2 linked regions of the Homo sapiens genome follow. The protein of the gene in region 2 interacts with the protein of the main gene of each other region in a biochemical or structural test. Each region holds a gene or a part of one and is shown on either strand. Other genes may lie near its edges.

Region 1 (15,498 bases), on a different chromosome or scaffold from region 2:
ATAGTATGTAGCTTTTGTGCTCATCTTCTTTGGTTTGGTTCTGACACCACGGCTGGGAAATTCATTCATTTTCTTGCCTGTTTTGGAAATTCATTTTTTCCCAGTGCTGTGTAATATCCCATTGACTAAATACACCTTTATCCATCCTATTGCTACATTTATTGCTCACAGAGCATGTTTTCTATCCTTTTCCTTCAGGGAAAGTGGGTCTTTATATTTAAAGTGTGACTTTTGTATCCACTCTGACAATTTCTGCCTTTTAACTGGTTTAGTCCATTTACATTTAATGTAACTACTGATATGACTCCTTTAATTCCACCGTTTTGCTGTCTCTTCTCCATTTGTCTCGTCTGTTTTTTTCCCCTGCTTTGGTCCTTCTTTGCTACCCTCTTTTAGTGCAAACAGATTTCTTTAGTCTCTCATTTTATTTCCCCATTTGCTTTTTATCTGTGCCTCCTTGTGCTGCCTTTTTAAACCTTGATTTGTCACAGCCTCCTTGAACTCATAGCGTCACGCACCCCCTCAGACAAGACTGAAGGACTGTGCGAGAGCACAGATCCATTTTCCACCAACCACCCCCACCCCATCCTTTCTAGATTGTTTTATGCATTTTACGTCTGCATATGTCATAAACCCCACAATACAATCTGATTCTTTTGCTTTAAACAGTCACTTGTGTTTTGAATACACTGAGAAAAAGAGATCGTCTCAGACATTGACTCTCCTTTACCCACTTCTCCTGTTCTTTATTCCCTTCCAAGAGAACTAAATTCCTATCTGGCATTGTTTCTCTTCACCTGCAGAACCTCCTTTAGCATTTTTGGTGGTACAGCCTCTGGCGACAAATAATCTTAGCTTCCTTTTACCTAAAATGTCTTTATTTCACTCTTATTGTAAAATAATATTTTTTGCTTGATGAGAAATTCTGAGTTAACAGATGTCTCTGTTTCGTTTTAGGGCACTTTAGTGTATGGGATGCTACCGAGGGGCACGGCTGCTCCACGTCCTTGCCATTTCTCAGCACTGTTAGCTTTTTAATTTAGCCATCCTGGTGCCTGGGCAGTGTTGTTTCATTGTGTGCTGTTCTTCCTCTTATAAATATGCTCCTTTTAAATGCAAATACAAGATCCACCATTAAACTTTTATCAATCCTATTTAAATTTCCAATTTTTCTTGTTTTAAACATTTTAGAGTTTAATTTATAAATCATGAACTTCGCCGATTTTTAGTAAGTCTTCCAAGTTGTGGAGCCATCATTATAATCTGTTTCAGAACCTTCCTCGCCCAGTAAGGTCCCTCACACTCATTTACAGCTAATCTCCATTCCAACTAGTCCCCGTCAGCCACTATAGATTTGGATATATAGATTTGGCTATTCTGGAGATTTCATACAAATGCAAGCATACAATATGAGGTCTTTTGTGTCTAGCTTCTATCATTTAGCATAATGTTTCTGAGGTTCAGAAATGTTATAGATATTGAAGCATATATCAATATTTCATACCTTCTCATTGTTGAATCACATTGTGTTATATAGACATGCCACATTTATCCATTCACCAACTGAGGACATTTGGGCTTCTCCCATTCGTTGACTATTATAATGCTATAAGCATTCATGTACAAATCTTTATATAGATATGTGTTTTCATTTCTCTTGGGTAGATACTTAGGAGTAGAATTACAGAGTCCGTAGGTGTCCTTTTTTTAGACTTTTTAAGAAACTACAAAACCATTTATCAAGGTGGCTATACCATTTTAAAGTCCTATCAGAATGACGGTACCCATTCCTCCACATGCTAGTCAACATTTACTATTGTCTGTTTTTTTTTAATAGTCATTCTAGTGGATGAGAATTTATATCTAGTTGTAATTTTACTCTGGTTCCCTGATGATCAATGAGGTAGAACACCTTTTCACATATTTGTTAGTCATTTAATTATCCTGTTTTTGAAATATTCTTTCAAGCTTTTGCCCATTTTTGAGTTTTCATATTATTTTATAGTTTTTATAATCTGCACAAAAGTTCTTTGTGGTTATAGGTATTGAACATGTCTTCTCTCAGTCTGTAATTTGCCTTGTCTCTCTTTTATTAGTGTCTTTTGATGAACAATGATTATTTCATGTCCAATGTACAACCCTCTCTGAATAGTATATTTATGTAAATAGTGTACTGTGTCCTGCTTAAGAAATATTTACCATGTCCCAAGATCATGAAAATAGTCTGTTTTCTACTAGTAGCTATATTGTTTTACTTTTTACATGTAGGCCTATGGACCACTTTGAATTAATCTTTGTGGGTAGTATGATATAGACTTCATACTCTATATACAGAGAGTGTGTGTGGTGTGTGTGTGTGTGTATTTCCTGTTTTTTTTTCTTACAGATAGCTGACCAGTCCAATATTGTCCATTGAAAGATCATCCTCTCTATAGTGAACTGCCACGGTATCTTTGTCCACACACGTGAAGATGTACTTCTGGGCTCTTCTGTTCCATTGACGTGTCTCTCTAACCTTCAGCCTACTGTCTTGATTACTGTAGCTTTGTAGTAAACTTTGTTATAGGTTGTATGAAACCTCCAATTTTTCTCTTCTTCAAGATTGTGATTCCACATCCTTTCAATTTTTACATCAAATTTAGAATCTGCTTGCCGATGTCTGCATTTAAAAAGTCTGCTGGTGGCTGGGCGTGGTGACTCACGTCTGTAATCCTAGCACTTTGGGAGGCCAAGGCAGGTGGATCACTTGAGATCAGGAGTTCGAGACCAACCTGGCCAACATGGCAAAACCCCATCTCTACTAAAAATACAAAAAAAAAAAAAAAAAAAAAAAATTAGCCGGGCATGGTGGCAGGCATCTGTAATCCCAGCTACTCGGGAGGCTGAGGCAGGAGAATTGCTTGAACCCAGGAGGCAGAAGTTGCAGTGAGTTGAGATCATGCCACTGCACTCCAGCCTGAGCAACAGAGCAAGACTCAGTTAAAAAAAAAAAAAAAAAAGAGTCTGCTGGGATTTTGGTAAGGGATAGCACTGAATCTGTAGATCAATCATGGAAAAACTGATATCTATACTAAGTCTTCTAATCGATGAAAACGATATCCCTTTCCATTGATTTAGATCTCCTTAAGTTTTTCTCAGCAATGTTTTATAGTTTTCAGGGGAGACATCTTACACAACTTTCCTTAGATTTATTCCTAGGTATTTGAATTTTGTGGTGCTCTACTGTAAATGATATTTTTTAAGATTTCATTTTCTAATTGTTCACTGCTGATATATTGAAACAACTTATTTGTGTGTATGTACCTTGTATATGTAGACTTTGATAAACTCACTTATTAATTCTAATAGTTTGTAGGGTCTTGCCATGTTCTGAATGTGTCTCACAAAAATTCATACATTGAAACTTATCATCAGTGTGATAGTATTAGGAGATGGGGTCTTTAAGAGGTGATGAAGTCATGAGGGCAAAGCCTTTATGAAGGGAGTTAGTGACCTTATAAGAGAAATATGAGCTGCCTGCCTCTCTTTTGTCATTCCACTCCTTCTGCCATGTGAGGACATGGCATTCAAGGCACTGTCTTAGAAGCAGAAACTGGACCCTTGCCAGATAGTGCCTAGATCTTGGACTTCCCAGCCTCCAGAATGGTAAGAAAAAAATTTCTATTATATATAAGTTACCCAGTCTGTGTTATTTTGTTATAGCAACAGTAATGAACTAAAACAGGTGTCTTGGGTTTGCTACATCACAACCATAGCACCTGCAAATAATGAGTTTCCCTTTTTTCTCCCTCTCTAAAGACTTTTTTTTTTTTTTTTTTTTTTTTTTTTTGAGAGGGAGTCTCACTCTGTCGCCCAGGCTGGAGTGCAGTGGCGCGATCTCAGCTCACTGCAAGCTCCACCTCCCAGGTTCACACCATTCTCCTGCCTCAGCCTCCTGAGTAGCTGGGACTACAGGCGCCCACCACTGCACCCCGCTAATTTTTTGTATTTTTAGTAGAGATGGGGTTTCACTGTGTTAGCCAGGATGGTCTCAATCTCCTAAACTCGTGATCTGCCTGCCTCGGCCTCCCAATGAAACTTTTATTTATTTTATTTTATTTTATATTTGACATCCTGGCCAATGCAATGTTGACTAGAAGTGGTAATAGTCAACATCTTGTTTTGACCTTGAACTTGGGTGGGAAATGTTCAATATTTCATCATTATGTATGTTACTTGTAAAAGATTTTTGATAGAACCATTTATCATATTAGAGAAATTCCATTCTTTTCCTGGTTTTCGGAGAGTTTATATCATGAAGTTGAATTTTACCAACAGATTTTTCTGCATCTATTAAGATGACTGACCACGTTTTTCTTTTTTATCATATTATTATGTTGAATTATATTCAGTGATTTTAGAATATGAAGCCAATCTTTATATTTTCAGAATAAACCCAGCTGGGTTATGACTTATTAGCCTTCCTATGTATTGCTGGATTTGATATGTTAATATCTTGCTCGTACTCTTGTATCTATGTTCATAAAAGGTAATCCAAAAGTTTTCTTATCCTGTAATGTTATTGCTTTTGGAATCAGAGTTACACTGGCTTCATAAGTTAGTTAAAATGTGTTCCTAATTCTCTATTTTCTGGAAGACTTTGGCTAGAATTAGTTTTACTTCTTTCTTAAACACTTGAAAGAATTTACTTGTGAAGCCATCTAGGCCTGGGCCTTTCTTCATAGGAAAATTATTCATTACAGATTTAATTTATTTAGGAGCTTTAGGACTACTTAGATTTTCTATTTGTTTCATGTCAGTTTTGGTACATTGTGCTTATTCAAGGAATATGTTCATTTTATCGAGGTTTCAAGTTTATTGGTATATGCTGTTTGCTGTGGTTTTATTGACTGTAGGAGCTGTGGTATTTCCCCCTTTACATTTTTGATATTAGTAATTTATTGTCTCTGTTTTGCTTTATCAATATTGCTAAATGTTTGTCAATTTATCAGTTTTAATTAACTCTTGAATTTGTTGATTTTCTTTATTGATTTTATTTCACTGCTTCTTGCTCTTTAAAATTTCCTTCCTTCTACTCTCTGGAGTTTAATTTGCTGTTCTTTTTCTTTCTTCTTGAGATAGAAGTTTAGATGCTTGATTTTCAGCATTTCTTCTTTTTGTCTAAAATATGTTTTGCTCTAAGGACTAATTACAACCCACAAATTTTGAAATGCGGTCTACAATGATAAAAGTATGTCATGTCCACAGTATTCTGCAGTTGTGGAATAGAGTGCTCTGTCAGGTAAGTTCACGTTGGTTAATTGTGTTGGTGAAATCATGTCTTTATTCATTCTTTGTCTGTGTGTTCTACTGTTTGCTGAGAGAAGCGTGTTCGTCCCCAACCGTAACTGTGGATTTGTCTGCTTCTCCTTTTAGTGTTGATAATTTTTTTCTTTTATACATTTTGAGGTTTTGTTATTGAATGCATTCCCACTGAATTGACCCTTTATTATTAAGAACTGTCCTTTTGTGTCTTTAGTATTACTTCTTGCCTTAGAGCCTTTGACATTAATACAGCCAGACCAGCTTTGCTTTTAGGAAGTGCTTGCACAGTGTATCTTTCCCCATCCTCTTATGCTCCATGTCACCATGTCCTCATAATTAAGATGTCTCTCTTGTAAATATCACTGTTACTCTTTGATCCAGTCTGAAAATCTCAGCTTACTTTACTTCTTAGCCTCCTGCCCCACACAGCTTCAAAGTGTGACAAACGCCCTGAGGGGCAGACTGGTCATGTGTTTGTGGCGGGCCCCCTCCCTTTGTCTCCTACGTCCAGTGAGGGCATGGGAGCTGTCATTCTGCCTTTCCAGCTGGGCTCGCCAGCCTCCCCCTTCACTCCAGGACTCAGGAGGATCTCCTGTGCAGCAAGCTGGCCTAGGTGGGGCTCCTCTGGTTTCCATTGTTTCATGCCCACTCTGAGATGGCAGAAAAGTCCTACTCATCTCTCTGAGGACATCCAATCCTCAGCCCGCACCCAGAATCCACAAATGCCCCAAGGGAAGAAAGCAGCTGGCAATTAGGCCGCCCAGGCAGGGCTCTTTCCCCTTCCCTTTGGAATTTTAGTTCATCCACACTCCACAGCTTCCACAGATCTCCAGTATCTTTCAAAACAGGACTATTTGCAATTTATATGTTTCCCTTGCTGTTGCAGCCAGTTGGCCGGCCTGCCCTGACCTGTGGCATCTTACCTGGAGATGGAAGTCTGCTCATGGTTGTTGAAGTAAATGAATCAATAAATGCCCGACACTTAGATACGCTATCACGAGGCATTTGCAACAACCCTCGCTAGTCTCCATTAAGCTCCTTTGACAAATGGGGAACTGTTCTTTGAGCGGATTACCTGCAGCCCCAAAGCCTCCTTACCACACCTAAGACGGGAGGGAGGTTGCTGGGGCCCCAGTGCTTTGAACAATGCCTGGAGCACAGCAGGTCCTCGGAGCTCCGCATTTCCCCCATGCGTGCAGGGAGGGAAGGCCGCGTGCCCGCGGGCGGGGGAGGGGGCGGCACGTACCAGCCTGCGGATGTCGCGCTCGCACTCGCGCTTGATGCGGTGCACCTCGTCTTGGTGCGCCTGGTAGGCGGCACGCAGGTCGGCTGCCTTGGTCTTGTCAGCCTGCATGCAGTTACTGAGCGCCTCCTCTGCCTGCTTGCGCGCTGCCTTGAGCTCCAGGATCTCCTGCTGCAGCCGCAGGCGCTCTCCATCGAAGGCCCTGCGCGCCTCCTCGCGCGCCTCGGTCAGCAGCGCCGTCTTGACCTTGTCGGCCGCGCCGTCGCGCAGCACGTTCAGCGTGGCCTGCAGCCGCTGCAGCTCGCCCTCCTTGATCTTGGCGGTGCGCGCCGCCTCCTGCTCGTGCTGCCGGATGAGCCCCTCGCGCAGCGCCTGCAGCTCCTTGGTCTTCTCCTCATGCAGCTTGGCCTTGAGCTCCGAAATGTAGGCCGTGTGCCGTCGCTGCTCCTGCTCGCGCTCCAGCTTCGCCTCCTGCAGCCGCTCGCGCAGTTTGCCCACCTGCAGCCAGAGCGGCGAGAGAGCCGGTCAGGGTCAGGGTCAGGGTCAGGGTCAGGGTCAGGGTCACAGCTGGGGGAGCTGGCCACAGCCTCCCCACGCCCAAGACACCCACCTGGGCCCACGTTCCCATGGATTCCCCCTTCGGCAGTGCCCTGCAGGCCTGACCCTCCTGCCAGCCCCACTTAGAATCTCTCCTGCTAGTTCCCTGAGACTTTCCCTGGGGGTGGAAACCCCCTGAGGATGCTGGAGAGGCATTCAAGCCTTTGACATCTCTTCCAGGTTGTAAATTGAGACGACTGCTCAATCACAAAACACACCCTGCAGAAATCATCACCAAGACCCAAAAGATTGTAAACCAGAAATATATTTCCAGGGCCCCATGCGCGGACTGTGGAGTTGGAAAAGACAGACCAGGCTTCTAAGTCCTGGGGGGCAGTGAGCAGGGGGCACCATTCTTGTTGAGTGGGGTCCCTAGCTGGGCTGGGGGCTCCAATGCATCACCCACATTGCCACATGAACCCCTCACGGTCTTGGGAAGGAAGTAGCGTGCTCCCTCTCTTTCTCCCTCTCTCCTCTCTCTCTCTCTCTCTTCCTCTCTCTCTCCTCTGTTTTATCATGAGGCAGCCAAAGATCAGAGACAGTCTGGTGAGCTGCCCAGGGTGAGGGATGAGGACCCTGTGCTACCAGGCAACCCACCCCGCCTTGAGCCTATTCATTTTATCAGCAAACAATTCAAAACATTACTTATAAAACGTCCCAAGGGAGTGTGTTCTTAAAACACTTCAAAATGCTTTCTTTAACCTTTTTGTTTCAAATATCACTCAACACACATTCCACAGGAACGCCTGACAAGCCCTTATTTCCTGAATTCTGCCCGTCTCTGAAGACCTGAAATGAATTGCCTCTGGTGGACAAGCTGCTTCCAGGGAAAATGGCAATGTTTTTCCCCAGACCACACTGTTGATAGCATAGTCACATGTTAAAATTAATTTTAGGTGAGAAGTTTTACAATGGCACCTGAGTATTGATAAATCCTTACTTAAAACAGCAGGTAAAAAAGCAAATAAAACCAACCCAGGCAAACACACAAGATCAACATCTCCTTTCACCAGATACTCACAATCATAGGAATGAAGCCAGGCGACCAGTCCATGTTCTGTCCACCTTACCCTGGGGGCAGCAATCAGCATCTTTTCCTAGTGGATTTAGCAGCAGGAAGCCAGAACTTTAAGTATTTAACAGAATTGTCCCAGTTATGGACAAAATGGTTTTGACTGTTCTCCCTCCTGCGAGGCAACAGTCAAGTCCCTGGTTAATGCCGACAGCCATCTGGGGCCAGCAGGGTCAGATCCAATGAGATCCTAATCTGCTTTGATGAGCTGCGTTTCCCCAGGCAAATTTCTCTGCCTCTATGGTGGCTGATGTTGTGGGTCGACTTGGCTGGGCCACAATGCCCAGTCGTTTGGTCAAACACCAGTCCAGATGTGGCTGTGAAGGTACATTTTATAAGAGATTAACATTTACATCAGTAGACTCTGGGTGAAGCACGGTGCCTTCCACAATGTAGGTGGGCCTCATCCAATCAGTCGAAGGCTTTAAGAGAAGACCGAGGTCCCCTGCGGAAGAAGGAACTCTGCCTCCCGGCTGCACTGGGACTCGAAGCTGCAAGATCAACCCTTGCCTGAATCTCCAGCCTGCTGGTCTGCCCTACACATTTCAGATTTGCCAGCCCCACAACCGCATAAGCCGATTCCTTAAAACTAACGAATAACCTCTCACTCTGTGGGGGGTGTGTGTGTGTGTGTCACAACCTATTGGTTCTGTTTCTTTGAAGAACCCTGACTACACAACCTTCCAGAGCTCCAGTTTCCTCTACTAGGAAACAGGGATGGCAACAGCTGCCCCTCAAAGGCCCGTTGAGAGGAGGAAGATGAGGTGACTGTGGGTGGGTGAATGGAAGTCTGTTGTTATCGTGGTTCTGACTTTCTGCATCAGGGGTGGGCAGCCTCGTGTGAGAGACACAGGTAGAAAGGGGGTGAGGAACATGGAAGGGTGGGCAGAGGCCTGTGCAGGGCAGCCCGGGGCGTCTAGGGGCTGCTTCCTGGGAGGGGCAGAGGTGCTGCTGAGGCTGGTGATCCAGGTGTGTAGGGCAGGGATGGTGACAGAGAGGCAGGGGCCTGGGGACAGGGCCCTGCTGGGTCCCTCCAGCTCTGCCCAAAGCTGCTGAGAGCCAAGCCCAGGTGACATGACCTATGCCACAGAAGCAGCAGAGTGAGGCTGGGGTGACCTCTGATGGGCACAGAGCACTCCCTCCCACCACCACTCCATCCAGCTGAGCAGGCCAAAAAAAGCCGCCCAGCACTTTACCTCCAGGTGCCTCCAAGCTACCCCAAGTGTAGAGGCACCTACACCAGCCGCTCCTCAGCACTTGGACTCTAAATGCAGCCACGGCACAAAGGCCAAGAGAGGGAGCATGCCCTGGGGGTGTGGGGGCTGGCGTGGAGAAATTATCTGAACCACCAGCACCACCCTCACTTGCCACTCCCACTCAGAGAGTGAGTCAGATTCACCCCTTTCCATCCTCATCCTCATCCAATCCAGCAGCACTGGCTCTCCATGTCCAGGCCTGGCCACTTCCCCACTTCCCCCTTGCCCAAGCCACCTGCAGCAGCCCTCCCCGCCACACCCTCCATGCTCAAAGCCCTCTAAATCTCATGGGTACCAGTTCACTACTCTGAAACCATCATACATGTATAGTGTTGAACAAAGAAAGTGGATGGCAGAGGGGGAAGCCAGGTTTCCCACTTGGAGTAAGAGGTTACAGACAAGCAAGAGGAGGCTGAAGGGAGCCATGCGGCAGTGGATGCGTCTTGGGACATCTGTAAGAACTCATGTTTGACTTTGTATGGATATAGATGTCATATATGGAAATATTTACAGGTATGCGTACATACGCAGGTCAGTATACACATATATATTCCTTGTTCTGGCAGCTGAGAGGGCCTAGAAACAATGACACCGCAGCAGTGATGGGCACGCCTGGTGCCTGGATCTTTGTTTCTAATGCCATTCTCCAATAAAAGGAACCAGGACCCCTTAGAGAAACTGCTGGGTCTAGCGCTGGGGTAGGAAATATACAAGATGTGCCTGGGGCACCTTTTTTTTTTTTTTTTTTTTTTTTTTGAGTCGGAGTCTCGCTCTGTCCCCCAGGCTGGAGTGCAGTGGCACGATCTTGGCTCACTGCAGGCTCTGCCTTCCAGGTTCACGCCATTCTCCTGCCTCAGCTTCCAGAGTAGCTGGGACTACAGGCACCCGCCACTGCGCCCGGCTAATTTTTTTATATTTTTAGTAGAGACAGAGTTTCACTGTGTTAGCCAGGATGGTCTCGATCTCCTGACCTCATTATCCGCCCGCCTTGGCCTCCCAAAGTGCTGAGATTACAGGCATGAGCCACTGCGGAGCCTGGGGCATCTTATAATGCCAGAAAGTAAGGAAATGCTCCACAAAACCCCCACAAAACTGCCCCTGTGAAGCCTTGGGTTCTGCTTGTCCCTGCACTATTTTCTAAAACCTCTGATGGAATGTGCCCAGGGCTGCTGTATTGCTGGTTTCCTGTGAGGCTCTGTACCCATGCGACTTGAGGACAGGGTCTGTCTCTGAGTTACTTCCAAACACTTCTCACTCAGCCCAGGCATGGAGCATGCATGCCAGGGGTTTGCAGATGAATAGACAGACACGTTTACCACCCTCCTTCATCCTACAGTGTTCAACAGGGATGCTTTGCTAAAATGCCAGCACTTTAAATGGGACATTGACAGTGATTGTGAGATCATATCAAAGTAACACTTCAATGCAATTGTAAAGTTTGCATTTATGTTTTTTGTACCAGTCAATAAGCACATTACTGAATTCTCAGAGAATTGAAATTCTCCCAGCAGCCAGATGGGTAAAGTCAACCTGAAGCGGCCACATGGATGGCTGGATTGAGAAAATAATCAGCCAGCGTGCATCCAAGTGGAAATTGCCACACGTCCCAGAGGCAGGGAGGCAGCCTGGTAACAGGGAGGCCCAGCCTGGGGTCCGCATGGGCCTGGCTTTCAATCCTGCAATACCACCTACTGTGCTGGCCTCGTGTGTGGGGCTAAACTGTGTCCCCCTGAAAATCATATGTTGAAGTCCTAACCCCCATGACCTCAGGATGTGATTCCATTTGGAGATAGATCCTAATGAGGTCATTAGGGTGGGCCCTAATCCGATTTGCCTGGTGTCTTTGTAAGAACAGAAAATACAGACATGGACAAACACAGAGGAGAAAGCCATGTGAAGACACAGGGAGAAGGCGGCCGTCTGCAAGCCAAGGAGAGAGGCTTCAGAAGGAGCCAATCCTGACACCTGGATCTGTGGCTGCCAGCCTCCAGGACTGTGAGACAGCAATCGTCTGTTGCGTAAGCCGCCCTATCTGTGGGACTTGGTTACTGCAGCCCTGGCAAGCTAACACACCTGGGCAAGTCCCCGCCCTCTCCAGCCCTTGGCTTGCTCACCTGTAACACGGGGGAAGCCACACCTGATCTCTCAGGTCACTGCCAGGGTCATGACACCCTCTAAAGCACCTGGTGCTATCTGCACAGTAGGCATGTAAAGGTCACCCTGATGGTCATGTGAGCGTATGACAGGCAGCACCCAGGCCCTGTGTGTGACTGTCTCATTCATTCCTCAAACAACCCAGGAGGCAGACACCTTAGAGGTCCCCATCTACAGATGGGAAAACTGAGGCAGGGGGTTACACAGCTTATAAGACCTCAGGCAGGGGTGGTGGTGGAGAGGGGATTTGAGCCCAGGCAGTGTGATATGAGTGAGCAGCTTTCCCTGTCACCACAGCTGCTGTAGCTATGTCCAGATACAAGCTGCCAGCCCTTACACCCCCAGCCAGTCAGCCCCAGCCCCAGCCCCGGAGGTGACCTGGCCTGTTGACCTGGCTAAAGGGTGAACAGGTCAGCATCACCAGCATCCATGTCTAAAAGAGGCTGGATGCACTCGGCCTGGAATCTTGAACACCTAGGGATGGAGACAGGTGCATCTGTCCCCAAGTTCCAGAAGCCCAGTCCCCTGGTCCAGAACTCAGCCTCTGCTCTGTGTGGCCATCCTGAGCTGGGGTTGCAGCCAGATCCCAGGCCCCAGCCCCGTCCCCACCTGGAAGCTGGATCTGGCCCAGCACTCCATTGGCGACCTGAGTCCCAGCTCAACAAGACAGGGACGCCTGCTGCAATTCCCCAAGCAGCCTCCACCCGTCACTCCAGGTACTACAGCAGGAGCCAGAGGGCACCTTCGGGGCTTCAGATAGACCTTCAACTGCTCGAGCCACCCAGGAGCAAGCCTGCATCTCCATGCTCTTTCTGTGCTCAGCCTGGCTGGCAGCTCCTCTCTGGGCTCACAGAACCCTGGGCTTGCTCTACCCTCAAGCCCACCCAAGTCAGAAGCAGGCCACCAAATAGGACTGCAGCTGTGCCTGGGCACCAGATGTTGATGGGGCTTTTTATTGCATCCATTAATCAGATCCTCATGACCATCTTAAACCGGACAGCTATAATTACACCATAATAGCTGGTGTCAGATGAGAAGACAGAGGTTTCGGAGACTTTTAGTCACCTGGCCAAGATCATGAGACCAGTTAGCGGACAAGCTGAGGTTTGAAACCGGGTCTGCCTAGAAAGCCTGTGCTCCTCCCCTCTGTGACAGCCCGTGCTTTAATTAGACTGCCAGCACCCAACCAGGCACTGTCCTGACCAGCTCCAAAGCTCAAATCTGCCTTAGGAGAGAGGAAAGTAGCTCATATCGCAGAACCAGGCTCTGTTCCAAGCTCTTTACCTAGCAGAGCCCTGAGTCCAGACCACAGCCCCATCACATCTAAGAAAGCACATATATGGCTTACAAGACCTCATGGCAGCATAAACCAAAAATAAACTTTGAAGCCTCCTGACCATCTGAACGGATCCCTCCTCTCCACCAAGGGTCTTCCAAAGTTAACCTGAAAAGCTAGTTCAGGCCATGATGGGAAGCGGGGAAGTGGGACATACCTCACTATGCCCTACTCCCTTTTGGAATTTAGGAAAAGCTGGTACCGCCATGACCCTGCTGAATTCAGCCTGAGGATGCCTTCATGCATGAGTTCCTATATGATGAACTGCAACCTAACTTAGCAGGCAAACTAACCAAAAGCCTGACTTAGGAGCATTTTTAAACAAATAGCCGAAGCTCAGCCAATCACAGCAGCTGAGCATCAGTAAATCACAGGTGACCCATGGATCAAGGGTCAAGCTGTAACTGATCAAGTAGCCTCAGCACCTCTTCTGTTTTCTGTCCCCATAATGAATGCTGTCTGACCACATGCAGGTTTCTCTGAACCTGTTCTGTTCTGGGGACTGCCCCATCCTCGAATCGTTCTTTGCTCAGTTAATCTCTGCTAAACTGAATTTGTCAAACATTTTTCTTCTGACAACCCCCATCTTGCAGGTAAGAGAAATCAAAGAATGAGGTGTTCAGTGGCTTTTTGAAGGTCACAGCAAGCACTGGTAGGGCCCAGACTCCTGCCCAGCAGTCTCTGTACTGCAAAGGGACAGACAGCAGGGCAGAGAGGTGAAGTGCCCCCCCTCGGCCCCCCTCCTGGAACAGGCTCTTCACACACATGCCTCAGAGGCAACACTGCCCAAAGGGACATTTGCAGCCCAGCCGCTGCTGAGCTGACGCCAACCCCCACCTTGCTTTTTTCCTGCTGGAACTCGATCTGAATGCTGGTCAGCTTGGCCCGCAGCTCCTCGTTGGCCATCTGCACCGCGTCCGTCTCCATCTCGGGCTTCTCGCCCTTGCTCCGGCCTTTCTTCGACATGCTTCCCCTTGGGTCAGAGTGCTGAGATCCTGCGGTCCACACCTGTTCACGCACGCCAGCCAGCAGGCGTGGCTACCAGCTCCACCGTGCTAACCAGTCGCGCAGGACTCAGCTCGCCCTCCGAGGAAACCACCATCACTTGGGATCCTGAAGGAAGGAGGGAAACTGAGTTAGCAGAGACAGAAGGGTGGGGAGCTGGTGTCCCTGCCTCGGGCACCCTGGGCCAGGCACCTGCCTCATCTGGAGCATGACCTGCCACTCCCAGACTGACCTAGAGCCTTCCCGATGGGGGCTGCAGCAGAATCGCTTGGAGGTTGTTAAGGCGTGGAGTCCTGGGCCCACCCCTAGAGAATCTGATTTGCATTTCTAACATGCTCCTAGGTGAGGCTCCCAGGTGACCACACCTGGAATAGCTTCAGTCCATCCTGCTCCCATCAGGATGAGACCAGCCCATCTCAGCAGCCTGCAGACCATGGTCTGCCAACATCAGTGAGCCTGTGTCTCCCAAGGTGCTTCTTCCAAAAAGCAGGGCCCTGGGCCTCATCCAGAGCTTGAAGCATGAGGAGCATGGTGGTCCAGGGAATCTGCATTTCCATCCACAATCCCAGCAATTCTGGAGCAGGGCGTGAGGACCACACTTAGAGAAATGGACTTTTCGATTTCAGAGGTTAGTGGTTTCCTTCCCTACTAGGTAGGTGATATCACCCAGTGTTACAGATGAGGAAACTGAGACACACAGAGGTTGACTGCTGGTGATGTCACTCAACTACTGAGAGAGGAAATAGTATGAACCTGATCAAGGTCCACAGCTGGAAGCGGGTGAGCCAGGACTGAGCCTAATCACCGCCCCAAGCTGCCTCGGAAAGCCCGCCTCTGCTCTCCCTTCCCTTCACCACGTCTCCTTCTCGTTTTCCATCTGACAAACTGTAATTGACTTAGTTCTCATCTATGTCCCCTACACGAGGATGGGTTCCCAGTAAGCAGGGCCTGGGCCTGCTCTGCGCCTGCTGTGTCCTCCATGCCTAGAACAGAGGGCAGCACGTAAGGATGCATTCCATCAGGATCCGCCAGGTGCGTGAATGAATGAGTGAGTGAGTGACAGCAGAAGAGTCATGAGGCACCCATCATGTGCCAGGGCCTGTGACGGGAGCTGGGAATCCTGTCCTATCATCTTTGGAACACCTGGTGAGAGAGGATTTTACTAGGCCCATTTTAGAGATGAGGAAATGAAAGCACAGAGAGGTGAAGTCAGCTACCTAAATCCACACAGTCAGTGAGTCGTGGCGTTGGGATTAGATTATGTAGGGAATGAATGCAGAGCGAGGAGGGAACACTCCAGTGTCAAGGAATGCTAACTTGGGAGGTTGGGCAGATGAGACAAAATTGGCAAGGAAGGCCATGAACAGGACAGAAGGAGAGAAAGCACCAGGGAGGCTACAGAAGATGGTGTGTCTAGAAGAAGGAAGACTCCAACAGCGGGCAGCCCCAAAGAGGTCAAGGTGAGGACCTGAAGCTGGACATTGGATTTGGCCTCCTGGAGTCCATGTGACCTCAGCCTATGGACAGGAGA
Region 2 (16,017 bases):
GCAGGCAGGAAACCGACTCATTCCAATTGACACATTCTGGTTCTTCTGCCTTCCCATCCCACCCCGCTTGATGCCTCTGATGTTCTCCAGTTCCCTTCTCCCAGGTCCCACGTCTGCTCCCCGCCACCTCCAGGGAATCACCTGTCATGGTGGATGAGTTTGAGCTCACAGCCAGGCCTCCCCTATCTCCTGTGATCCCCTATCATAAAGCCTGCACCCATCTCTCCCTGTCATTTTCTTCACACTCCACTCCCCAAAACCAATGATCTCTCTGACTGTCCCAAGTCTGACCCTCTACCAGATCTGATCCTCTACTTCTCTTCCTGCCTCCCGTACCCTAATACCTAATTATTTTCCTGTACCCTGCTGCTCTTCCCATAGGCATTCTGGGGTTAGCTTACAGCTCAGGAATCCACCAAGATAGGATGTCTATTAGTAAAAATACAGATAAATACTTGGGATTCATCCCTGACCAAGGAGCTAGAATCTGTATTTTTAACAAACTCCTCTGGTGATTCTTATGTACACTGAAGGCTGAGAACCACGAGAAAGTAACAGTCAAAAAGGATTTTAAGTTCTCTTGCCAAGCTCCTGATAATCCTTGTGCTCTCTTCTCTTCAAGCACCCTACCTTCAACCTCACTTCTGTCCCCTCACACACCTATCCCAGACACACACCTATTTCTAGGTGTATAGTGATGTTCTAAAAATGAATATAAATCCTTGGATCACCCCAAGGTTGATATTTGGTAAGATCACCAAATTCTCACCTTGTGTACTCTATTTCACCCTAACCCAATTCCTTAAGTCTCTGGGGCCACATGTCAGTGAAGATAAATTTGAGATCTTAAATCTCCTTCCCTGTGTCACATCCTTCCCTGCACCCCCAATTATTCATGTAGGGGAGAGGGGTGGGAAAAAAAACCTCATTATAAGCTATCCCCTAATACCCCTGGACCCAAATTTGCTTACCTTCTCTCTCTCCCTCAACTCACCTCCCTAATCCCTACATCCCATTTCCCTTCTCACATCCTAGAGGCCACAATGCTATAAGGGAAGGGAAGGTCAGGACCCAAGTTCCATAAGGTGCCCCAAGATCTCTCATTATCCCCACGCTACCTCCTTGCCCCTCTCCCCCACTGCCATTCTTTTCTGTTCTCTTCTCCTTGTATGTTGACTCTTCTTCATCCCCATGCTATTGTGGGGGTTCCCATGTGGATCCCCAATCCAATTCATTTTCCCAGTGCCTCTGCCCACCTCTTGATCATTAGCCTTCCCCAATCACCATATGCCATCTATCCCACAGTCTGGGAATGCTCAACAGGGTTGGGAATAGAAGGATGAGAAGGAGTCAGGTAGGGCTCACCACTACCTTGCTGTTTTGTTAAGATAAATAAACTAGAGCTCTCAAGTCTCTCAAAATTTTCCTCATTCTGTCCCTATTCCTTCCAGCTCCAACCTACGCCAAGATTTTACCTTGTTACCATGGTAAATGTAAACCCCCAATCCAGCTCCCCACCTCTGACATTCCCTCCACCCCCAACCCATTCCAGGGTTAGTTTACTCCCTCAGAGGATCAGTGTCTCCTAATACCTTAAATCCACCACCAGTTTCTCCAAACCCCGACACTTCTGCGAGACTCCCGCAGCGGGGCAGAAGGGTCTGCCTTGCAGCATGCTTAACCATCTTGAGCCCCTAGACCCTCATCTTGGACCTCCAGCCCCTGCGACTCTCCCCAAGCTCCTGCACCCCCAGCCCATCTCCTGCCAGTCACACAAGGGAGGGGTCTGCCTCGCAATCCCAGAGACGACTCAGACAGATGGGGGCGCGTGCAGCTGGCTGGCCCCCTGCCCCGCAAGCCCCCACCTCCCACCCACCCCCATGTCCAGGGCTACCTTGCTGTCGTGGTGGATGAGCTTGAGCTCATAGTCCGGCAGGATGTCCCTGCGGCTATTCACGTCCTCCAGCGCCATCTCCACCGCGGGCTGGCAGGCCTGGCCCCCTGGCCAGCCCCCGCTCATGGGAAACAGTGCCCCGATGTACACTGCGCGCCGTTCTGAGGAGGGGTGCGGGGGGACCCGCGAGTGAGGCCGCGGGAGATGGGGGGAGTGGGAGGCCCACACCGGAGCCACCCCTGCCGCCATCACAACCAGAAGCGGCAGTGGCCACCCCACCCGGGCAAAAGGGGCCCCGGGCCCCATGGCGTGGGGGGCAGGGGTAGCTGTTGGGGAGCGTTAGGAGCTCAGGGGGGACACTTTTCCTGGGGAGGGCTGCTAAGAGGGTGCCGGGGAGGCGCCTCCATCCCTGATTTTGTGGGGAGGAGGGGGCGAGGGCCCCGGAGAAGCAGGGAAGGTTGGCTTCCTACGGCCCCCGCGGCTCTCGCCACCGTCGCCGCCACCGCGGACTCTCCTCGCGGACTGACTGACCGACGGAGGGGAGGAGGAGGAGCAGGAGGGAGATGTGGGGCTGGGAGGGGGCTCTGACGTCACGGGCGGCGCGCGGCAGCGGGGGGTGGGGGGGCGGGCGGGAGCTGGGGAGGCAGGAAGGGGGCGGGGAGGGAAGCGAGCGCCGAGGTGGGAGCGACAGTCGGAGGGGCGGGGAGGGGAGGGGGGATGCAACCTCGAGGAGGAAAGGAACGAAAGAGGAAGGGAGGGATCTCACTTAAGGGGACCCGAGGGGAGGAGAAATGGGGACGGGGCGTGCCAGGAGGGCGGGGTGGGCGGAGGGAGCCGCGGGAGGCTGAAGCACGGAGGAACCAGGGTAGGAAGGGAAGGATGCGAGTGGGACGGGAGAGAAACGGGGCTGGCGCCTGAGGTCTGAAGTGGGAGTATGAGTCGATACAGTGAAGCACTGAGGATGTGGGGGAGAGGAAACGGTTTTGGAGGGAACGAGTTGGGTACGGAAGGGAGGCTGGTTTGAGGGAGTGGTGGGGTCGTGGAAGGGAGCCTGGGGCTGGGTAGACAGAAGCCTAAGAAAGGGAGACAGGACATGGAATTGAGAAAAGACGAGGGAAGGGGTACACGGAAGGAAAAGATGTGGGGAAGAGCGCGAGAGGCCTGGCCAGGGTTGGGATGGGTGGGACAGGCTGAGAAAGTCCATTAGGTGAAATCCTAGGAGGCAGCAGGCTGGAAAAGGTTCCAGCGAAGGTCGCAAGGAACCCCACAGGGGAAAACGTGGTGGGAGCTCAGGGTCTCCCAGCACCCTGCCGCCCTCTGCTGGGCTCTGCCTGACACCGGCGAGGCTCAGTCTGGGAGGAGGTGGAGCCCAGGGAAGTGTAGCCAAGCAGGGACAAGGAGAGACCGCAGCCTCGTGGAAAACCGGGACTGGAGGCAGGAAACAGGTAGGGAGGGAAGGGGGTGGCCGCAAACTGGGGTGGGTTGGGGAAGGTGCGAAAGGACGACGCCCCGTAGCCTAAGGGCAGAATTTCAGGGGGGTGGAGGGTGCAGAGTGAAGGGGAGGGCATTGCAGTGCGCGCGGTAAGGGTTTCTCATCTCACCTGAGTGTGGCGTTCGATTCACTGGCAGCAGGAAAGACGGGGATCAGAGAAGAGTTACCACTGGCGCCCAGCTTCCCTGGCCTGATCCCCAGCCCCCTCCCACACCTGTCCATGCTGAAGACCGGGGAGAGCAGAAGCCTGCGTTTCTGAGGGGAGGGTGCCTGGGGATAAGAACAAGGTGGGTCTGGGGGTAAGGGGGTCAGGACTTATTTTCTTCTTCGATTTTTCATAGGACAACAGAATTTGAGACGGGAATGCCAATAGCTAAGTTTGGGGCAGATCTTGGTTCTGTGGTGCCTGAATATTACAAAATTGGGAGTCTTTAAGAAAAAAAATTACACATACAATTGGCTTTAAGCAATTGCTGTTAAAATCTTATTTCTGCAATTTTTACAAAAGCCTGTTACCATATGAACACATATCCATCGAGCCCTCTATATTATTAGAGCACAGGAAGAGGGCCCTGTAGGTGAGGAACCTTGAAGTCTAAGTTTCAGTAGTGTCATAAGTCCACCCCTGGATGGGACTCTCAATTTCCAGAATAAAATGGTAAACTAGAAGCAGAATAACTGAGTTATGTGAGGAAAGTAAAGCCCAAGGATCTTGAAAGAATCTACCAGGGTAGAGGAAGTATGAGGCATACAAATGGGATGACTGCATCCCAGGAGAGAAGATGGCAGAGAGTTCGGGTGCCTAGAAAAGGGAGAGTTTGTAAAATTACGTGGCAAAAAAAAAAAAAAAAAAGTAGACAGACACAACACTGATTCCCTTAGGGAATAATGGAGGTTGTCTAGGAAGTACAGAAAAGGACCTGTCTTCTTCCCACCCCATCCCTGAGTTGTTCTTCATCTTCTGATAATGCTGCCTCCAATTTTAAGTCTTTTACCCTAATATGTTTCCACCCCCAGAGCTCCCCTTCTCAATTTTTCTTAGTAGAATGTTTGATTTATTTCTGAGTCTTTACAATAAATCAATTATATAAGGAATGGTGAGGGATGAATTCTAGAAGAGGGTGATGCATGGAAATTTCTAAGTTTAGAGAAAGGGAAAATTGGAGTATTTAAACCTGAAGAAGGTGAGAGAGGTGAGATTCATAAAGGAAAAGAGAAAACGTGAGGTCTAAGAATCGGGAGCAGGAAGATTTTTTTAAAAGGTAAAGGAAGGAAGCCCCCAACCTACAGAGGATACCGGGGACTGCAAGAGGAAGTTTGAGGCAGGTGATGGAGGAAAAAGGGACTTTCATCTCCCCTTTCCAGTGTCCTCCCCCACATTTTTATAGCTCTCCATTCTTTCCCATTATCCATTCCCACCCCACTCCCATCCTCACACAAGCGTCCTCATCAGCTGCATGCAGGCAGCTGTTCCCCTCACCCTGGCAGTGGGGCTTGGGGGTGCTCCACTGGCCCTGACTACAGATGCTCCGGGAGCTGCCCACCAGATGGAAGTCGGGGTCACACCGGAAATCCACCCGGGCTCCGTCCAGAGCTGGGAGGTCCCCACCCGTCAGGAAAACCTTCCCATTTTCCAGGGTCAAATAAGACTTGGAGCAGATTCGGACTGTGGAGAGATAGGAAAATAAGAAGAGAGGCGAGTTGAAGAAGGCTCTTTCCCTTTAAAGAGCAGGGGACTCAGGTGCAGGTTTGGGTCCACAAGCATCCTGCTCTAAAGAAAATCACATGTGAAAAGGATTTGCCTACCTATCTTCCAATCCTCCCTTACCTGTGCAAGCATCCACACATTCCCAAAAGAAAAAAAAAATTACCATTTTAGGAACCCAAGATGGGGCTATAAGCACACAAAATGGGATCTCTTCAAAGTCAGCTACAGTGGGCGGTTCTCTGGCTTTGAAATATGTAGATGTATATAACTTTGGATGCACAATCAGATTTGCTTTTCTTATTATAGTTGGCTTCTATTAATATTAAACTGGCTTTTGTTTCTTGGGCATATGGTCTCTGGGTTGGTGACAGAGGTATTCAAAAATGTGATGAAATCATTTTAGAATTTTTTTGTCATCATCTGCCACTAATGATCCTCAAAGAGAATAACTGACAAGATGAATTATCAATGTTATAGGCCAATGATCAGTGGCCTAATGAAGGGAGGATGAAATGAACTGTGCAGGCTGCTAGCTCTACTACCTCCAACCGCACAGAGCAAAATTGCTCTTATGTAGTAGTCATTCAATAAATGTATTTGTGAATTTTGGTATACTGGATTTAAAGTGCTGACTTGCAAGCAGTAATGCTAAGTTTGCGGCAGGAAAAGGAATAGTCTTGAAGAGGGGAGGGGCTTCCGAGGCTACTCACCACAGCGGCTGGGTGTGTCCATATCTGTCCAGGAGCCGTTGGCCAGGCACTTGCGGACCTTGGGCCCCACCACCTCGCGCTCCCCCCGGCACACATACTCAATCTCATAGTCCACTGGCAGGAAGTTGATAGCCTTCACCTGGTCCCGAGTCAGGCCCCGGTACCTGATGCCCCCTTCCCAGGGCGGGTGTATGATCTGGCAACCTAAGGGGTGAGTCGGGGAGGCATACAGAGAGGAATGGTGGGAAAGAGGAAAAGGCAGGCTCCCCAGTGGGAGGAAGGGGAGAGTAGGGCGTGGTCTGTGGGCAGGCTGGGGACAGAGGAAGAGGGATGGGGCACTAGAGGGTGGGAGTGGGGACAGGTACAGATCCCCTGGCTAAAGGACAGAGAGTAAAGGGCCAGGGTTAAAGCTGATGAGAGAACCCACAAGTGGGGAGGGAAGGGTGCTGGGTGGAGGTAAGAAAGAAAAGTAATTAAGAAATCATGAAGGGTATGATATGTGGGTGGAGCTTTTCTTTAAAAAAAAAGGCTAAATGAGGATATTCGAGTTGAATTAGGATAGGAGGATAAAGGGAGGCTAATAAGATCATCTGGACAGCAAAGTGGGACCAAGAAAAGGGAGTAATTGAGGTAGTAATGTGGGGCTGGGAAAGGGGATTGAGGCGGAGAAAATGCACAGGAAGGTGGTATAGTGTAGCAATGTGGGCAGAGAAAAGAGGTGCTGGATAGTAACGTGGGGTGACAGAAGGAGGTCAGCAGTAGTAAAGTCGGGCCGAGCAGAAGGGGTTGCCAGACCGGGATGATATGTGGGACTGATGGGATAGTGATGAGGACCAGAAATGAGGAGATGCAGGGAAAGGGAAGTGGAGCGAAGGAGGGCCGGAGGTCGTCGAAGAAGGATGCACCTTCTGAGGTGGCGTTGGGGGTCTGCGCCCCGCCCGCGCCCGGGGGGCGGAGGAAGAGTGGCGCCAGTAGCAGCAGCAGCAACATCTAAGTGAGAGGCGGCCATGAGGACTGGACCGAGCCCCGCCGGCGCGGCCCGCACCCGGAGACTACTCGACCTCTTGCCGGTTGCCTCGCAGGCTCCGACCGGGCTCAGCCTGGGGACCAAGAGAGCGCCCCGCGGAGGAGGCGGGGGCGGAGCCCCGCGCGGGGTGGGGGGAGAGGAGGAGAGAAAGCCTGTCCCCACCCTCCTCCTGCCTCCCTCGGCCCCCAACCCTCCCGGGACTCCACCTCTCACCACCTCCTCTCCCCCGGCCCCCGCGGCTCGCAGAAGCCTGGCTTACCCACGCTCCCGGCATCGGCCGCCTCAGCGCTCCCCGATTCCATCCCCGCGGTTCCTCCTCTCCCCCAGCCCCGCTTCCCCCAGCTGGGCCCTGCGCCCACTGCCCCCTCCCCCACCACGCCGCGCGCCCCCTCTCCGAGCCCTGCTAACCCGGGGCCCTGGCTCTTACCTCGGCGCGCGGGCCCGGCTCCCCGGCTCTCCCCGGGCCTCAAGGCCCCAGGCCCGGCCGCTCCTCCCCGCTCCCCCCTCCCTTCTCCTCCACCTTTCTCCTCCTCCCGTCCCTCCTCCCCTCGAATCCAGGCTCCAGCCTGGCCAGGGTCTCTCCCCTCCTCTCTCGCTTCCCCCAAACCCCACCCCTGTCTCTTCTTCCCCGGGGCGGCGGCAGCCACGGGAGCGGGGAGCGGGGAGCCGGGAGGGAAGGAGGCGGCGCCGGGGACCAGGGAGAGCTCCCGGGCGGAGGGAAGAAGGAGGGTGCAAGGGAAGGCAGGGCGGGGGGAAGAGAGGGGAAGACCGGGGAGAGGGCGCCTCCCACAACCCGAGCCCCGGGAGCCGCCCCGGATCCCAGCCCCGCCCTGGACCGCCCACAGCGCGGTGGGGCGGGCGGTGGAGAGGCGCGGGGCTGAGAGGTGGGGGAGAGGGAGGTGCCCTGGTGCACACGCACTCGTCGGGGGGCGCCGGTCACTGCCGAGGGACCTGCGGGCCAAACAACTGGAAGCTGGGGTGGGGGAGAGGGAACCCGAGCCAAAGGCAGAGGAGCTGGCGCTGAGACAGGGAGTCTGGGATGAAGGTGGAGAAAGACGGCTGCACAAAGAGAAGGCAGCCCTAGATCCGGGTGAGAGGAGAGAGGCAGAGGCAGATGCCCAGGAGAACTGCGACCGGAGGGCGAGAAAGAAGCCTGGGTCAGAAGGAGGTGGGGGAGGGGGACTGAGGACCACCTAAGCGCAAGAAGGGTTGGGTGTAGAAGAGATTTCTGGGAGACTAGAGCAGCTCCATGGTCCAGCAGCATTGCTACTCGCCTGCTCTGCAGGGAACGCGCAGAACGGATTGGAGGCAAAAAACAAAACAGGGAGGGGGACATCAAGGAGAGAAATTGAAGTACGAAGGGAGTAAAAGGACAAGAGAAAAGAACCTCAGGGTGGTTTAGAAGCCAGTATTACCTGATGTACTCCAGCAGAGCCTAGCAAACAGTATTTCTTGACCAAGGGCAAACTGGAAGCTCTAAAGACAGCAGGTACAGACCTTTTTGACGGCTCCAGAAGCTCTTGGCTATACCTTGAAGTGGAGGGGTGTGTGTGTGTGTGTGTGTGTGTGTGTGTGTGTGTGTGTGTGTGTGTGTTGTGCTGTTGTTGTTCGTAGGCCTGAGTTTGGGCTGGGAGAGGAAACAGTGGGCTCCTTGTTGGGGGGGACAAAAAAAAAGCTGCTTTCTGGCTGGTCCTAGGGGGAAAAATGGTAGGAAGAAACCAAACACTGAGAGACTGACTAGAATTGAGATTCTCAACCTCCAACCCTTTTTTACAATAAATATTTTGTAATGACACTTTTACTGTCCTAAATTGAGATTCATAGATGAGGCTCACGCCTGAAATCCCAGAACTTTGGGAGGCCGAGGCGGACTGATCACTTGAGCTCAGGAGTTTGAGACCAGCCTGGCCTGGCCAGCATGGCGAAACCCCATCTCTACTAAAAATAGAAAAATTAGCGTGGTGTGATGGTGTGCGCCTGTAATCCCAGCTGAGACACCAGAATCGCTTGAACCCGGGAGGCAGAGGTTGCAGTGAGCCAAGATCGCACCACTGCACTCCAGCCTGGGTGACAGAGCAAGACTCCATCTCAAACAAAAAGAAAGGGAAGGAGGGAGAGAAAGTCATAGATGATATAACCTACCTACATACACAACTTTAAACAGAAAGCAAAATGCTTCCCTTTCTGTAACGTAAAGGGGAAATGAAAGAAAAGTAACTTGCAATAAAATAACATAAACAGTATTTTAATGTGTGAGTGCCAAGGCCCGACTACCCTAGAAGTCCTGATGGAGTAAGCAGATGCTTCCACCTATTCACAGAACCACGGGGATGAAACTGCTACCAACACAGGCTGATCCAGGTGCTGAGTTGGTGACTCAACTACCTCCAGCATGTTGCCATCAATGAAGTGATTTAACAAAATGTTGAACAACTCTTGGTAGCAAAGTTAATTTTCCCTAATTTTACACACAACTATAATTGCATTCCTAGAAAGTTCACTGTATATTTAAAAAAAAATTTTAAAACTGTATTAAGTTATAGGCTCAGATAATTAAACACAGGTTTTCACTACGTGAATGTCCTGGGGGACTTTTGAGAATCTGGGTGAGGAACAATTCTTCAACATGTAGGTAGTGCTTTGAAGAATATCTTACACCTCTGCCCCAACCATAAATGTCAATAGTGCCCCTTCCCTTATCACCTGAGGTTGGGAGTTCGAGACCAGCCTGACCAGCGTGGAGAAGCCCCAACTCTACTAAAAATACAAAATTAGCCAGGCATGGTGGTGCATGCCCGTAATCCTAGCTACTCAGGAGGCTGAGGCAGGAGAATCACTTGAACCCGGGAGGCGGAGGTTGCAGTGAGCCAAGATCATGCCATGCCATTGCACTTCAGCCTGGGTGACAAGAGTCAAACTCAGTCAAAAAAAAAAAACAAAAAAAAACAGCTAAAAGATGCATCAAAATGTTAACAAGGATTGCCTCTGGGCCATTAATTGTTGCATAACTTTTCTTTTTTACTTTTTTTTTTTTTAAACAAGAAGTTTATTTAAACAACAAGACGCTTGACTTGAAGGGAAAACTATCTAGGATTCTTTTTTGTTTTAGAGTAATTTATCCCTACTTAAAGACAGATTGCTCTGCATGTAACAGCTAAGTACAAAAAAGTTATAAAATTGTCCTTGGTTTTACAATGATAAATGAAAAACATTAAAATTCTCCAATTGAACAAGGTATGCAAGGATTTTTATGTTGTTGTTTTTTTGTTGTTGTTGTTAAAACAGTGAGAGCAAAATAACTTACTGGAATATAAAGATAAGAGCTGAATGAGCATGCCACTAATGGAGAAAGGGGGTATTTTCACAGAATCAGTATTTTTCCGCCCCGTCTCCACTTGATGTCAATCAAAACATACCATTGGCTGTTTAGTTTTAAAAAAAAAAAGTAATATGCTTGTGCACATATACCAGTTACTTTATGTACAGTAAAGGAATGGGGAAGGGGGAAATGAAAGAATAGAGAAAACTATACGGTAGTAGTCAGGATGTGGTGGAAGCAAATTGCAGTTTTCTAATTGAGAATGTAATCTTGGTCTTTAAAGAACAGAGTTCTGGAGTAAAGAAGCAGGTTCCCTTTTCAGTAGACACCTCCCGTCTGCTGTTGGAACACATCAATTGTATCTTCATCCTCCATTTCCAACTGTGCAGGTGTGTCTGTTTCATTGGTTGCCCGTCGAATCGGAATCTGATCTGCCTCATTGACAATCCCTGTCGTTCACAATAGGCTTTCATTAGTTTACTAAGTGGTGTATGCCTCTTAATCTTAAACTGCACCACAGAACCATCCTGCCCCGCCACCTTCAAATTAATATGATCGTTGTTCTCAGTCTTGACTCCTTCCTTGGGCTTTTCTTCGGCCATGGCGAGCGCCGGAGTCTCCTCAGCTGCCGCTTCACAAAAGAGGTACCAGGTCCGCTCCAAACGAGCACACAAGCAGCACCAGGAGCGGCAGAAGAAGGAGGCGGCAGCAGTGGACAAGGGGAGAGGGTGCGCGCACGTCGTGCTCTCCCTCCCTCCACCCTCACTTTTCTTTTTTTTTCTTTCTTTTTTTTGGTGGGGGGACGGAGTTTCACTCTTGTCACCCAGGCTGGAGTGCAATGGCGTGATCTCGACTGACGGCGACTTCCGCCTCCCGGATTCAAGCGATTCTCCTGTCTCAGCCTCCCGAGTAGCTGAGACTACAGGTGCACACCACCATGGCTGGCTAAATTTTGTATTTTTAGTAGAGACAGGGTTTCACAATATTGGTCAGGCTGGTCTCGAACTCCTGACCTCAGGTGATCCACCTGCCTCAGCCTCCCAAAGTGCTGGGATTACAGGCATAAGCCACTGTGCGGGGCCTGCACACTTTTCTTTCGTCATATTTGTTGTTCAACTTTTATTCAAATGTTTTACAAGTGTCTCCTCTATAAATCATTTTTAACTGATTTATAAAGGTTTAAAGAAAACCTTCCTAGCAAGTTGCATCAGTATAGCTAAAATCTGTTACTTGTTTGGGAGGCAGAGGCATTTGAGGGTACAGACAAGGGCTCCAATTATGTTCATTATACAAACCACTCACCTTTTTCCACCAGTAGCTACAACTTCCCCCTTTCACATCTTTTCATATTCCAATGTCACTGCCAGGATTCCTGGCCATATTTTTCAGGATATTTGTAGAGGTCCTTCCAGAACCACTACTTGAGTATCCTAATTTCATCCTCCCCACAATCAATCTACTTCCTTCTTTTCCTTTTACATCAAGCACAAAACTTCTTTCCTCTGGAAGGATCCCCAGGCTTGATCCCATCCTTCTCTCACTTCTGTACAATTTGTGCCTTTGGCAATGCCATCTCCTTTTGTAGTTTTTGACGGTTTTTCATAGAGATAGTGGAGTTCCTACTCAGATTACTGGAAAATGACAAATCTTATTCATTTTAGTTCCCATACTTTCTTTTTTTTTAATAATTTTTATTTTTTATTCTTATTTATTTATTTTTATTTTATTTATTTATTTATTTTTTGAGACAGTCTCACACTGTCGCCCGGGCTGGAGTGCAGTGGCGCGATCTCGCTCACTGCAACCTCTGCCTCCTGGGTTCAAGCAATTCTCTTGCCTCAGCCTCCTGAGTAGCTGGGAATTACCGGCGCCCCACCACCACGCCCAGCTAATTTTTTGTATTTTTAGTAGAGACGGGGTTTCACCATGTTGGCCAGGCTGGTCTCAAACTCCTGACCTCATGATCTGCCCGCCTCAGCCTCCCAAAGTGCTGGGATTACAGGCATGAGCCACGGGGCCTGGCCTCCCATACTTTCTTTCTACTTCCTTTTCTCTCTTCTGCCTCATCTTCCATCCATCCCTGAGAGCATATAGCCCAGAATTTAACACTCTGGGAGCCCTGAAAACATATTAACCAACGTAGTTCACTTGATTGATGATCAGGTAGATGCTAGGTACATTTTGGGAGTATCTCATTAAATTCTCACCTAACCACACAGAGTGGATATTCATGTTCTATACTGAGCCTAGTAAACTACCATTTAAAGAAAGTAAGAAGCAAATCAGAGGTCACACAGCTATAAAGCTGACAGAGCCAACATTTGAACTTAAGTTCGTTACCCTATTTTCAAATTCTTTCTACTGCATTGAGAGGCTTAGTTTTGAGGCACTTCTCTCACCCAACTCCCACTCCAAGTCTTTTTCTTTCTTTCTTTCTTTCTTTTTTTTATTGAGACGGAGTCTTGTTCTTTTGCCCAGGCTGGAGTGCAGTGGCACAATCTCGGCTCACTGCAACCTCCGCCTCCCGGGTTCACACCATTCTCCTGCCTCAGCCTCCCGAGTAGCTGGGACTACAGGCGCCCGCCACCATGCCCGGCTAATTTTTTTGTATTTTTAGTAGAGTCGGGGTTTCACTGTGTTAGCCAGGATGGTCTCGATCTCCTGACCTCGTAATCCGCCCACCTCGGCCTCCCACAGTGCTGGGATGACAGGTGTGAGCCACCACACCCGGCTCCAAGGCATTTTCTGTCAAGGGTCAAACTGCAGTTCTATTCTCTCATCTAAAGTAGTGGTGATCACTGGGTGAATGGAAGATGTTCATGTCCTCTTGGGTTAGGATGAAAGACCTGTCTTCTGGGAGAGTTTTCTGTCCTGTAACAGCTCTTGCTCTTTAGAAAAATGTATAGGGCAAAGGTTTATTATTCAAACGTGAAGTTATTTACACTCTGGGATTCACTCTGGCTTTTTAGTGAGGTTTTGAATCCTTTGCATCATATTTAATATCACTAAAATAGGATATTTTTGTGAAACTGTTTGATCCTTCCCCTCAGTTTCCATTTGTGTGTTCTCTTTCTTCCCGTCTTGATAGGCACAGGCACTCAGAATCACTGGGCCAGAAAGAAGTAAGAGAGTAGGCCGGGCACGGTGGCTCATGCCTGTAATCCCAGCACTTTGGGAAGCCAAGGCGGGCAGATCACGAGGTTATGAGATCAAGACCATCCTGGCTAACACGGTGAAACACCGTCTCTACTAAAAATACAAAAAAAATAATTAGCTGGGCGTGATGGTGGGCGCCTGTAATCCCAGCTACTTGGGAGGCTGAGGCAGGAGAATGGCGTGACCTGGGAGGCGGAGCTTGCAGTGATCAGAGATCGAGCCACTGCACTCCAGCCTGGGCGACAAAGTGAAACTCCGTCTCAGGAAAAAAAAAAAAAAAAGAGAGAGAGTAAGGGAACATCTTTCGTTAATAAACCCTCTCTATTGCTCCCCACACACAATCCTAGTTTGGTTGCTGTCTTCGTCTGTTTGGGCTGCCATAACAAAATCTCTTGCACCGGGTAACTTATGAACAACAGAAATGTATTTCTGACAGTTCTGGAGGCCGGGAAATCCAAGATTAAGGCACTGGCAGATTCAGTGTCTGGTGAGGGCTGGCTTCCTCATAGACTGCCATCTGCCATCTGCGATCTAGCTGTGTCTTCACATGGTGGAAGGGCAAACAAGCTCCCTGGGGCCTCTTTTAGAAGGGCACTAATCTCATTTGCAAAAGTCCCCACCACTTAATACCACATTGCATTGGGGATTAGGTTTCAGAACATGAATTTTGGGGGAACACAAACATTCAGACCATAGCAGTTGTACATTCTTGGCAGTTCTGGCCTTGGTTTATTGTGCCAATAAAAGTAAGCTCATGAAGCTATTTCTATCATGTCTTTACAGGCATGTACAGGTGAGCCCAGTTTGGGAGTCACAAAACTTCAGTGAAATTAAAAAGCCACACTATGAGTACCTGCACTAGCACTTACCACTCTCACACACAAGAATCCCTGAGGCAGTGGGGATCCTACCCCTGTCTCAGGAGTGCACAGAGCCAATAACCAAATTACAACATTGACATTGTGAAGTTGCCTCTAGAAATAATTTCTCAATAAGTACACCTTTATATAATAAGTGAATGAACACAATGTAATTAAATGCTAGATTAACCTAAGAAACAAAAAGGAAAATAGCTTCTTTGTCCGTTCATCTACAGGATAATGAGGTCATGTTAAAAGACTTAGAAAAGGTTCAGTTCTCCTGCCGGGCGCCGTGGCTCATGCCTTTAATCCCAGCACTTTGGGAGGCCTAGGCGGGCGGATCACCTGAGATCAGGAGTTTGAGACCAGCCTAACCAACATGGAGAAACCACCCATCTACTAAAAATACAAAATTAGTCGGCCATGGTGGTGCATGCCTGTAATCCCACCTACTCGGGAGGCTGAGGCAAGAGAATCGCTTGAACCCAGGAGCTGGAGGTTGCAGTGAGCTGAGATTGTGCCATTGCACTCCAGCCTGGGCAACAGGCAAAACTGTCTCCAAAAAAAAAAAAAAAAAGGTTCAGTTCTCATAAACACAAATTTAATGAGCATTTTGAAGATCTCAAAATAAGTATTATATTTAATTAAACGTGTAATTAAGTATATACTGGTATGAATATCTACAAATAATTATTCATACTAATCTGAAAAACGTATGCATCATAATGTGTGTATATAATTGGTTGCTAGGGGATTTGTTTGTTCATTTTGCTGCAATAGATTTCTGTCTCTCGTCATATTCTGTTCAAGTACCTAAAATGATTGCTCACTTATTCGAAGCACACTAATGAAATAATACTCAGAGTAAAAGGATATATCACCCAGATTTTTCTATTAGAAGCTACACAATACTCAAAAATCTATCATTTAATATGTGTATGCAGGTCTAAAGCCCATAATAAGCAAAAATATATTTTCACGTTAAATGTATGGCTATTTACACTAGATGAGGTAAAGAAAGACTATAAATAGCTTCACATCTCGTTTTGTCACAGAATGAATGCAAGTCAGGCCAGGCTTTGCCGCCAAATGAGTTACAAAATTTTGGTTTTCAGAGTATTGTGAATTTTGGAATTGCAGAAAAGGATATGTGAAACTGTTTATAAACATGAGAAGATGTTTACAGATAGATGTTTTAGAAGTCAAATGAACAAATCTGAAGCAACAGACTAGAAATTCTATTCATGGAAATATGATAAAAATGCCAGTAAGAGGGCTGGGCGTGGTGGCTCACACCTATAATCCTAGCACTTTGGGAGGCCGAGGCGGGTGGGTCGCTTGAACTGGAGTCCGAGACCAGCCTGGGCAACATGGCGAAACCCCATCTCTACCAAAAATACAAAACCCCGTCTCTACCAAAAATACAAAAAATCAGTTGGGCATGGTGGCAGGTGCCTGTAATCCCAGCTACGGGGGAGGCTGAGGAAGGAGAATTGCTTGAACCTGGAAGGCAGAGGTTGCAGTGAGCCGAGATCACACCACTGCGTTCCAGCCTGGGCGACAGAGCAAGACTCCATCTCAAAATAAAATAAAATAAAATAAAATAAATTTTAAAATGCCAGTAAGGATCTCCATAAAGGCTATGTATGAAAACCTGACCATGTCACATCCATGACCCTATTACAGCAGGTCAGATTAATCTTACCCTAGTCCAGAGAACCACGGGAACCACTGAGTCCTAGTGGAGGGAAAGCCTGGAACAGATGTGAAGCAAGCTTGGCTTTTAGCAATTGAGAGTAAACAAACACCTGCTGAGTTTACTCTTCCTTGCCTGTCTTTCTAAGCCATCAC

What was found.
Region 1: the proteins of GABBR1 (region 2) and JAKMIP1 form a complex in vitro, tested with the Homo sapiens proteins (one study listed by BioGRID).

What each region holds. Positions count from the first base shown.
Region 1 is NC_000004.12:6,098,923-6,114,420, forward strand, and holds part of JAKMIP1 (janus kinase and microtubule-interacting protein 1), read right to left. Parts: intron 14,076-15,498; 5' UTR 13,929-14,075; coding exon 13,800-13,928; intron 7,046-13,799; coding exon 6,551-7,045; intron 1-6,550. UniProt on the Homo sapiens protein: Associates with microtubules and may play a role in the microtubule-dependent transport of the GABA-B receptor. May play a role in JAK1 signaling and regulate microtubule cytoskeleton rearrangements.
Region 2 is NC_000006.12:29,625,592-29,641,608, forward strand, and holds the start of GABBR1 (gamma-aminobutyric acid type B receptor subunit 1 isoform a precursor), read right to left. Parts: upstream 7,593-16,017; 5' UTR 7,259-7,592; intron 7,192-7,258; exon of another isoform or gene 7,106-7,191; coding exon of another isoform or gene 7,091-7,105; intron 6,795-7,090; coding exon 6,710-6,794; intron 6,011-6,709; exon of another isoform or gene 6,009-6,010; coding exon 5,805-6,008; intron 5,799-5,804; exon of another isoform or gene 5,053-5,798; coding exon 4,867-5,052; intron 3,517-4,866; coding exon 3,496-3,516; intron 2,423-3,495; exon of another isoform or gene 2,201-2,422; coding exon of another isoform or gene 2,056-2,200; coding exon 1,895-2,055; intron 1-1,894.